Linked DNA regions of Homo sapiens: all the other regions are linked to region 3. The links come from fine-mapping of genetic effects on gene expression. A gene starts in region 3. Each other region holds a variant in brackets. All regions are shown on one strand. Distances are between the middles of the regions.

Region 1 (2,765 bases), 68 kb after region 3:
ATGAACAGACACTTCTGATCACACAAAATGAGATTTTAAAAACAAGAAGTAGCAAATTGAATGCTGTGTAAATTTATCAGAAGAAAAAGAAATGGAAGTGAAACAGAAGGAACTGGTCAACTCAGGTAAATGTAGTTTTTCCTCACTAAAAATCAGTTTCTAGAACATCTAAGAAATCAAAGATGATGAAAAATATTAAGATGTTTTATATATATGTAAAAGTCTTCACAGTTGATTGATCATCTCATGAAAAATTTGTACAGTCACTGCAAATAAAGTCATTGCAAAATCTTTACTCCTTTTGCTTTTTGCCAGCACTGACATTGGCCTTTGCAGTCTCTTGACTTCATTCTGCCCTCGCATTCCTTTTGCTGTTTTCTTGAGGTCATTTCTTCTCATGCCAGCTGTGTCTTGCAAGTCTATGTTCGAGTTCATTTTTCTTTGCATAATTCAAAGAACCAGATAGCATGCCAAAGCCCATTGTTTAACCACCACCAACACGGGTTCTGAGTCCAACTATTAATATGAAGATGACACCTATTGTGGTCTTGTACATTTTGTTGCCTTTCCGGGGTGAAGGACATTGGTGACCATTTGTTTCCTCTGGAGTGGTCGATTGGTCATGAACTTCCTGGTCCAGATAGTTACTGTGTCATTTATCATGGTGGTTGATCCTCAGGTAGTTAGGGAGGAAAATAAGCAAGAAGTTATATATTTAAAACCACGTTTCAATTTTAGACCTGATTAATTGACTTAATAAAGGGCATTAGCGCTTCTACTTCCTACAGTCCCTCCCTTTACCTCTGGAAACTAGTTATTTCTAGGTTATTTTATGTTGTTAAGGTTGACCACCTTCTCTTTCTGTTCTGCAATCATAGCCCTATTTTTAAATGGATTCACCTCTCATAATTAGCCTTTTGTCATGGTCATTCAATTCACAAGTTGCTTATTTTTTAATTTCTTGGCTGACTAAATTTCATTATGAAGACTTTTTTTTAAAAAAGAGCTCAGAAATACTGTACTCTTTAAGTTCTTCAACATGTGATCATGTCTTTTGCCTATTTTGATTGGGCAATAATTTAGCTGGCTATAAAATTCTTGGATTATACTCTATTTCCCTTAGAAATTATAGGCACCCATCCACTGACATTTCATTGTGCTTTCTTTTTTTTTTTTTTTTTTTTTTTTGTGAGATGGAGTCTTGCTCTGTCACCCAGGCTTGAGTGCAGTGGCGCGATCTCGGCTCACTGCAACCTCTGCCGCCCATGTTCACACCATTCTCCTTCTTCAGCCTCCCGAGTAGCTGGGACTACAGGTGCCCGCCTCTATGCCTGGCTAACTTTTTTGTATTTTTAGTAGGGACGGGGTTTCACCATGTTAGCCAGGATGGTCTCGATCTCCTGACCTCGTGATCCGCCGGCCTTGGCCTCCCAAAGTGCTGGGATTACAGGTGTGAGCCACTGTATGAGCCCAGCCTCATTGTGCTTTGTACTAACCCCCTTTCCCTGGTCTCTTCCAGCTTGTCTTCTTCTCTCCCAGTAGTTTCTTCATGAAGAGGCCATGTGCTATATTCCATGAGATATTTCACACTCAAAGAAGACTTCTTTTATACTCTTTTGATAATTT[G/T]TCTGGGAATCACTGTCTTGATTTATAAGGGAGTTTGTAATAAATACAGTAAAAGAGAAACACACAACGTATTTTGAGACATCAGAGAAGAGAGAAACCAATTCTATTAATATTTGGGGTTAGCAGGGAAGGCTTAGTTAAGAGGTAACATTTGAACTAAGCCTTGAAATAAGGGAAGGATTTGGACATGCAGTAATGGGGAGAGAGTAGAAGCAAGACATGATGGTTAGTGTTATGTATCAATTGGACTTGGTTGTGGGGTGCCCAGATATTTGGCTACACATTATTCTGGGTGTGTCTCTGAGATATTCTGGATGAGGATAACATTTAATTGGTAGACTGAATAAAGCAGATTGTCCTCCCCAATGTGGGTGAGCCTCATCCAATCCACTGAAGGCCTGAACAAAACAAAAAGGTAGAGTCACAGAGAATTTGCTCTTTTTACCTGATTATATTTGAGCTGGGACATCAATCTTGTCCTGACTTTAGATGTGGACTCGAGTTGGAACTATATCATTGGCTGTCCTGGGTCCCCAGCTTGCTGGCTGCAGACTTCAGGACTCCTTAGCCTCCATAACCATGTGAGCCATCCCTTACAACTAATCAATCTGTCTCTCTCTATGTGTATAGCTCTACCTCTATCTCTCTGCTCTTTCTCTGGAGAACCTAGAACAATACACAAGGTTATATTAGAGAAGAGGATGACCCAAGGAAAAGCATGGAGGCAGAAAAATGCAAAGAGGGTTTGGGAAGACTGGGGTCCTGACGGGGAGTTTGGATTTCACTGTGTGTAGCATGGAGAATCCTTGAAAATATTCAAGAGGTGAAAATTGTATTTGTGGAAGAACACCAGGAGTATGTGAAAAGAAAAACACTCACTCCATTTTAACTCCACTGAAGGAGGCATCAAAGGGATGCACTGGGGACATGGGGTGGAGGGTAGTTGAGGCCATATCTGGAGGATCTTTACTTCTAGGCTGAGTCTGAAGTTATCTTTCTGGGGAGTGGGAGATTACAAATCTTTGAGCTCCACTCAAGAGATGGTTTTGCTAACAATGGCAGGGTGACGGTGGTGGTGGTGGTGGTGGGAAACTGGTAGCATGAATTCTAATTGGGCTTCTGTTATTCTAGCCGAGAAA
Region 2 (2,765 bases), 66 kb before region 3:
CATTATTAAAGGATGCAATGAATATGCTCTGATAAAGTGATTGGCCAGCCTTTTCTTTTCAGTTATAAATAAACAGAGCTAGCAGTTATGTGTACATGGATCCTGGGAGACATACCTTGCAGGATCTCAGCCTCACCATACCTCCTATAAAATGGTTGTGCTTGTCCTGCCTATTTCTTAGCCAAGAGAGAGCTAATCCATATTTTTTAAGCTAAAAGTCACTGTAAAAATACTGGATTCTGTTGACTTCATTGTAGTGAATTTGTTGTTAAAATGTATGCTTATGAAAGAAAAAAAAATTTAATAGCCCAGTAATGAATTAATTGATAATATTTTATCAAATTGAGATATAATTCACATACCATAAAATTCATTTTTTAAAAATATACAGCTTAGTGGGTTTTAGTACATTCACAAGAGTATGCAACCATCACCACTATCTAAATCCAGAATGTTTTTATCATGCCCCCACTAAAAAACCCACATCTCTTAGCAATTATTCTTGCTACCCCTGTTCCCCTGTCACCTGGCAACCACTAATCTACTTTCTGTCCCCATGGATTTGCCTATTCTGGACATTTTAAATAAATAGAATCATGCAATATATGGTGGTCTTTCGTGGCTGAGTCTTCCATGTTGTAGCATGTATCAGCACTTCATTCCTTTTTATTGCCAAATAATACTCCATTACATGGATATACCATGTTTTATTTATCCATTCATCATTTGGGAGATATTTGAGTTGTTTCTACTTTTTGCCTGTTATCACTAATGCTGCTGTGAACATTTGTATACAAGCTTTTGTGTAGACATGTGTTTTTCTTTGTCTTGAGTATATACCTAGGAGTGAAATTATGGGTCATATGGCAACTCTGTGTTTACCCTTTGAGGAACAACCAGACTGTTTTCCAAAGTAACTGTACCATTCTACATTACTACCAGCAATGTATGAAGGTTCCCATCTCCACATTTTCACCAATACTTGTTATTGTCCATGTTTAACATTGTAGCCATCCTAGTGGATATGAAGTGGTATCTCATCATGGTCTTGATTTGCATTTCCCTAACTAATGACCTTGGAACATCTTTTCCTGTGCTTATTGGCCATTTGTATATCTTCTAGGAGAAATTTCTGTTTAACTCTTTGCTCATTTTTAAATTGGGATTTTTGTCTTGTTATTAAGTTGTAATGATATATGATTTGCACTTTTTTTTTCCCCCATTTTATAGGTTGTCTTTTCACTTCCTTGATGGTGTCTTTTGAAACACAAAACTCATTAATTTGAGTTCAGGTACGCTGGCTCACACCTGTAATCCCAACACTTTGGAAGGCCAAGGAGGAAGGATCACATGAGCCAGGAGTTGGAGACAAGCCTGGGCAACATAGGGAGACCTCATCTCTGCAAAAATATTTAAAATTAGGTGGCGCACGCCCATAGTCCCAGTTACATGGGGGGCTGAGGTAGGGAGATCACTTGAGCCTGGGAGGTTGGTTGAGGCTGCAGTGAGCCAAGATTGTGCCCCTGCATTCTGGCCTGGGCATCCAGGAGTGAGACCGTGTCTCAAAAAACAAAAAAAAAA[T/A]TTTTTTTAAGGCCAGGTGCAGTGGCTCACGCCTGTAATCCCAGCACTTTGGGAGGCCCAGGCGGGTGGATCACCTGAGGTCAGGAGTTGGAGACCAGCCTGACCAACATGCAGAAACCCTGTCTCTACTAAAAATACAAAATTAGCCTGGTGTGGTGGCTCATGCCTATAATCTCAGCTACTCAGGAGGCTGAAGCAGGAGAATCACTTGAACCCAGGAGGCAGAGGTTGCGATGAGCCGAGATCGCACCATTGCACTCCAGCCTGGGCAACAAGAGTGAAACTCCGTCTCAAAAACAAACAAAAAAAATTTAAATTGGCCCGGCATGGTAGCACACACCTGTGATCCTAGCTGCTCAGGAAGCTGAGGTTGGGAGGATTGCTTGGGCCCAGGAGGATGAGGCTGCAGTGAACCATAATTGTGCTACTGCGCTCTAGCACAGGCAACAGAGTAAGAGATCTTGTCCCCCCCAAAAAAAAAGTTTCTAGTTTTAATGATTATTTTCTAATTTTTCTTGTGCTATTTTTGCTTTTGGTGTCATCTAAGAAACAATCACCTAATTCAAGTTCACGAAGATTTACACCTGTGTTTTCTGAGAGTTTTATAGTTTTAACTCTTACATTTAGATCTTTGATCCATTTTGATTTTTTTTTTTTGTAATAGTGCAAGGTAGGTGTCCAGATTTGTTCCCCTGCATTTGATTTCCACTTGTCCCATCACCATTTGTCGAAGACTGTTCTTTGCCTATTGAATTATCGTGGCACCTTTATCAAATTTGAACATATAGGTGAGGGTTTATTTCTGCATTCTCTGTTATATTCCATTGGTCTGTATGTCTTGTCTTTATGCCGGTACTGCAATTTTTTTAAGTTACAAATTGAGTTTATATTGCATATATTTACAGTACAAAGTGATGTTATGATCCGTGACTACAATGTGTAAAAATTAAATCAAGCTCATTAACATATCCATCACCTTAAATACTTATTTTTGCCATGAGAACATTTGAAATTTACTCTTAGCAATTTTGAAATGTACAATAGGCTATTATTAACTGTATTCGCCATGCTGTGCAATAGGTCTAAAAAAAAAGAAAAGTATTCCTCCTAAGATTTTGTACCTTTTGACCTGACTTTCATCTCCCCATTCCCCCTGCCCCTCAGCCTCTGTTAACTACCATTTT
Region 3 (2,765 bases):
AAAATATCTGAGAATGTAAGTAAGAGGCTCACAGGCTTATTTTGATTGGCTGGCCATTTAAAAGCCAGAGATTTACATAAAAACCTAGATTTCAGCTTCTTGACAAATGAGAAATTCTCCACGGAGCCCACAATGCCAAACAGTGAAGGGCCCTCTGGATAGGGCATGTGCTCTCCAGCTCGCTGCGGGCCGCACCGAGACCCCCACCCCTTCCCATTATCTGCCTGGCAGTTGCCCGGGGACAAAGGTGTGCACAGTTGTGCAGTAGGTTATGAAGGAGTATCTGGGTGCCCATACACCCTAAGACCAAGACCAAGTCTTCCAGGAAGCCATCAAGCCAGCTGATTCCAGGCAAGCAGGTCCAAGTTATCAGATTCACCTGCGCAGAGCAAATGGCTAGGAAGCGGCTTCCGGATCTCTTGAAGGGCCATGCAGTGAAGGTCCGTCACCAAGGGGACCATGCCCCACAAGAAGTTGCTCCCCGCCCCCACGCCTCATTTTGATCCAACATACACCCAAGTCCCAAAGTTTCTGCGGGCTAAGGCTGCCTCCTCCATCACTGCTGAACTCCCAGCACACAGCACACAGCCTAGCACTCAGAGTGTACTCAATAAATGTAGACTTCATACCTGCAGAGCCTAAGGCACTGCTTAGGGCTGCCTCAGGGTCAATCCAAACCTTTCACTTGCCAACTGCCATTCAATGAGTCCCTACTCTGCTCCAAGCTGAAAGACATCCTAGGCGTTCCCTACAGTTCCTTCTAGTCGGGGTAGGGTCTGCCGCTGCACAGCTGACATAATTAATCACTTCCTTCCAAACCTTGAGTCCCGAAGGAAGCGGCCACACTGCCCGGCTCACCGCTCACCGGCTGGCATGGTGTCTCGTGGAGCTGCAAGTTACTTAACCTCTCTGTGCGCTTCCCCAGCCTTAGAGTGGGGATAAGCTGGGGTTTCTCTAGGCATCAGAAAAAAGAAAGCGCGAGAAGCATTCAGAACTGTGCGAGATATGATCAGTGTTCGCCGCTGTTATTTCTCTCATTTTATCCTCAGATTCGTCCTGGGGTGTCACCCCCGTCACCCCGAAAGGATCTGCGGCTGCCCCTCCCCAGCGCTTGCCTTGCTGGCCAGAGGGGCCAAGGGAACTGGTGGCCTCCCTCGGGTCAGCCTCGCCCACCGCGCCGGAGGAAGGAGATCCAGGAGTGGGGTTCTTGTCCTCCGCCCCCCAAACCTCGTCACGACTGCAGCCGGCCCGGCGGGGGCCCCGCCGTCCGCCTCAGTCTGGACCTCTGTAAAATGGGGGTAACAGCGCCGACCTGGGGGGCCCGCCCCGGGGATGAACGGCCGCCCAGAGCGACTCGGGACCTCACGTTACCAGCAGGCTGGCACGACTAGCAGGTTACGGCTCGCCAGGCGGCCGGGGCTGCGACTGACCTGGCGCCCTCGCCCAGCTCCCCATGCGTGTTGTAATTCACTGTCATGACCTTCACGGAGTCCTTGAACACCACGTTCCCCTGGCTCAGATATTGCAGGGTGCGGCGGATGGGGAAGCGGCCCTTCATGGGCATGGCGGCAACGGTGGCGGGGCCGACCCCACGGGCCGCGAGCCGAGCAGCGACGAGAAAGGACTAGCTAGCACCCGCGCGGATCTCACGCGGCTTCTCCCCAGAGCCAGGTTCCACTTCCCGCGCAGACGCACAGGAGACGCTTCCCGGCGGGCAGCGCACGCCGCGGAGCACTCTGGGACTTGTAGGCGGCCTTCGACCCGGCGCGGCGAGAACCGGTGTGTGCAGCTTCGCTTTAGGACGCCTTCCCCTTGGAAGGTTTAGGTTGTCGCGTCCTGTAAATTAGTCATTTCCCCATCCACCCACGGGAAAATATTTTTACATAGGCTAAAAGTCAGACATTGCAATAAGAAATAATCAGGAAAGCTCAGTTTGGATACCAAGTCAGCTGATAACGTCCTATTGAACGTATTGTCCATTTTTCTCCCCAAACATCTCCAGTTTTATCATGAAGAGTTCAAACTGCACTTTCTGACGTTGACTTAAACTTCTTAGCAAAAGAAAAAAAGATGGTTTGGGATCAATTCCTTCCTAAATTCAGCCACTTAACTCAGGACCTCAATTTTTTCGTAAACAAACTATGGGTGAGATGTATTTCTAGGGCCAGGCGCGGTGGCTCCCGCCTGTAAACCCAGCCTTTGGGGAAGCCGAGGCGGAAGGATCGCTTGAGGTCAGGAATTCGAGACCAGCCTGCCCAACATGGCGAAACCCCGTCTCTACTGAAAATACAAAAATTAGCCTGGTGTGGTGGCAGCACCTGTGGTCCCAGCTACTCAGAAGACTGAGGTGGGAGGATCGCTCGAACCCGGGAAGTTGCAGTGAGCCGAGATCGCGCCACTGCACTCCAGCCTGGGCGACAGAGCAAGACTCCCTCTCAAAAAAAAAAAAGATACATTTCTGAAGTACTCTTGATCTGAAAGGTATTTCTCCTTCTCTTTTGAAGAGTGATTTTGCCAGATTTAGAATTCTAGGTTAGTGTTTTTCCTTTCCCTCCCTCCCTTCTGGAGTGCAATGGTGCTATCTTGGCTCACCGCAACCTCCGCCTCCCAGGTTCAAGTGATTCTCCTGCCTCAGCCTCCCGAGTAGCCGGACTTACAGGCATGCGCCACTACACCCAGCTAATTTTGTATTGTCAGTAGAGACGGGGATTCTCCATGTTGGTCAGGCTGGTATCAAACTCCTGACCTCAGATGATCCGCCCGTC

What was found. PIP is the estimated chance that this variant, and not a neighbour inherited with it, causes the effect.
Region 1: its variant is fine-mapped to the expression of MRPS25 in whole blood (TOPMed, PIP 0.94).
Region 2: its variant is fine-mapped to the expression of MRPS25 in whole blood (TOPMed, PIP above 0.99).

Annotation. Positions count from the first base shown.
Region 1 is chr3:15,131,544-15,134,308 of GRCh38, forward strand. It overlaps the pseudogene RPS24P10. Among named protein-coding and RNA genes, the nearest start is that of RBSN, 34 kb to the left of the region's middle. The variant G/T (reference allele first, on the strand shown) is at 1,627.
Region 2 is chr3:14,997,444-15,000,208 of GRCh38, forward strand. All of the region lies in intron 1 of NR2C2 (nuclear receptor subfamily 2 group C member 2), which reads left to right. Among named protein-coding and RNA genes, the nearest start is that of FGD5-AS1, 50 kb to the left of the region's middle. The variant T/A (reference allele first, on the strand shown) is at 1,582.
Region 3 is chr3:15,063,631-15,066,395 of GRCh38, forward strand. MRPS25 (mitochondrial ribosomal protein S25) reads right to left here and starts at 1,685. Exons shown (of 4, transcript NM_022497.5): 1 at 1,431-1,685. The coding sequence starts at 1,564. RefSeq lists an enhancer at 1,665-1,844.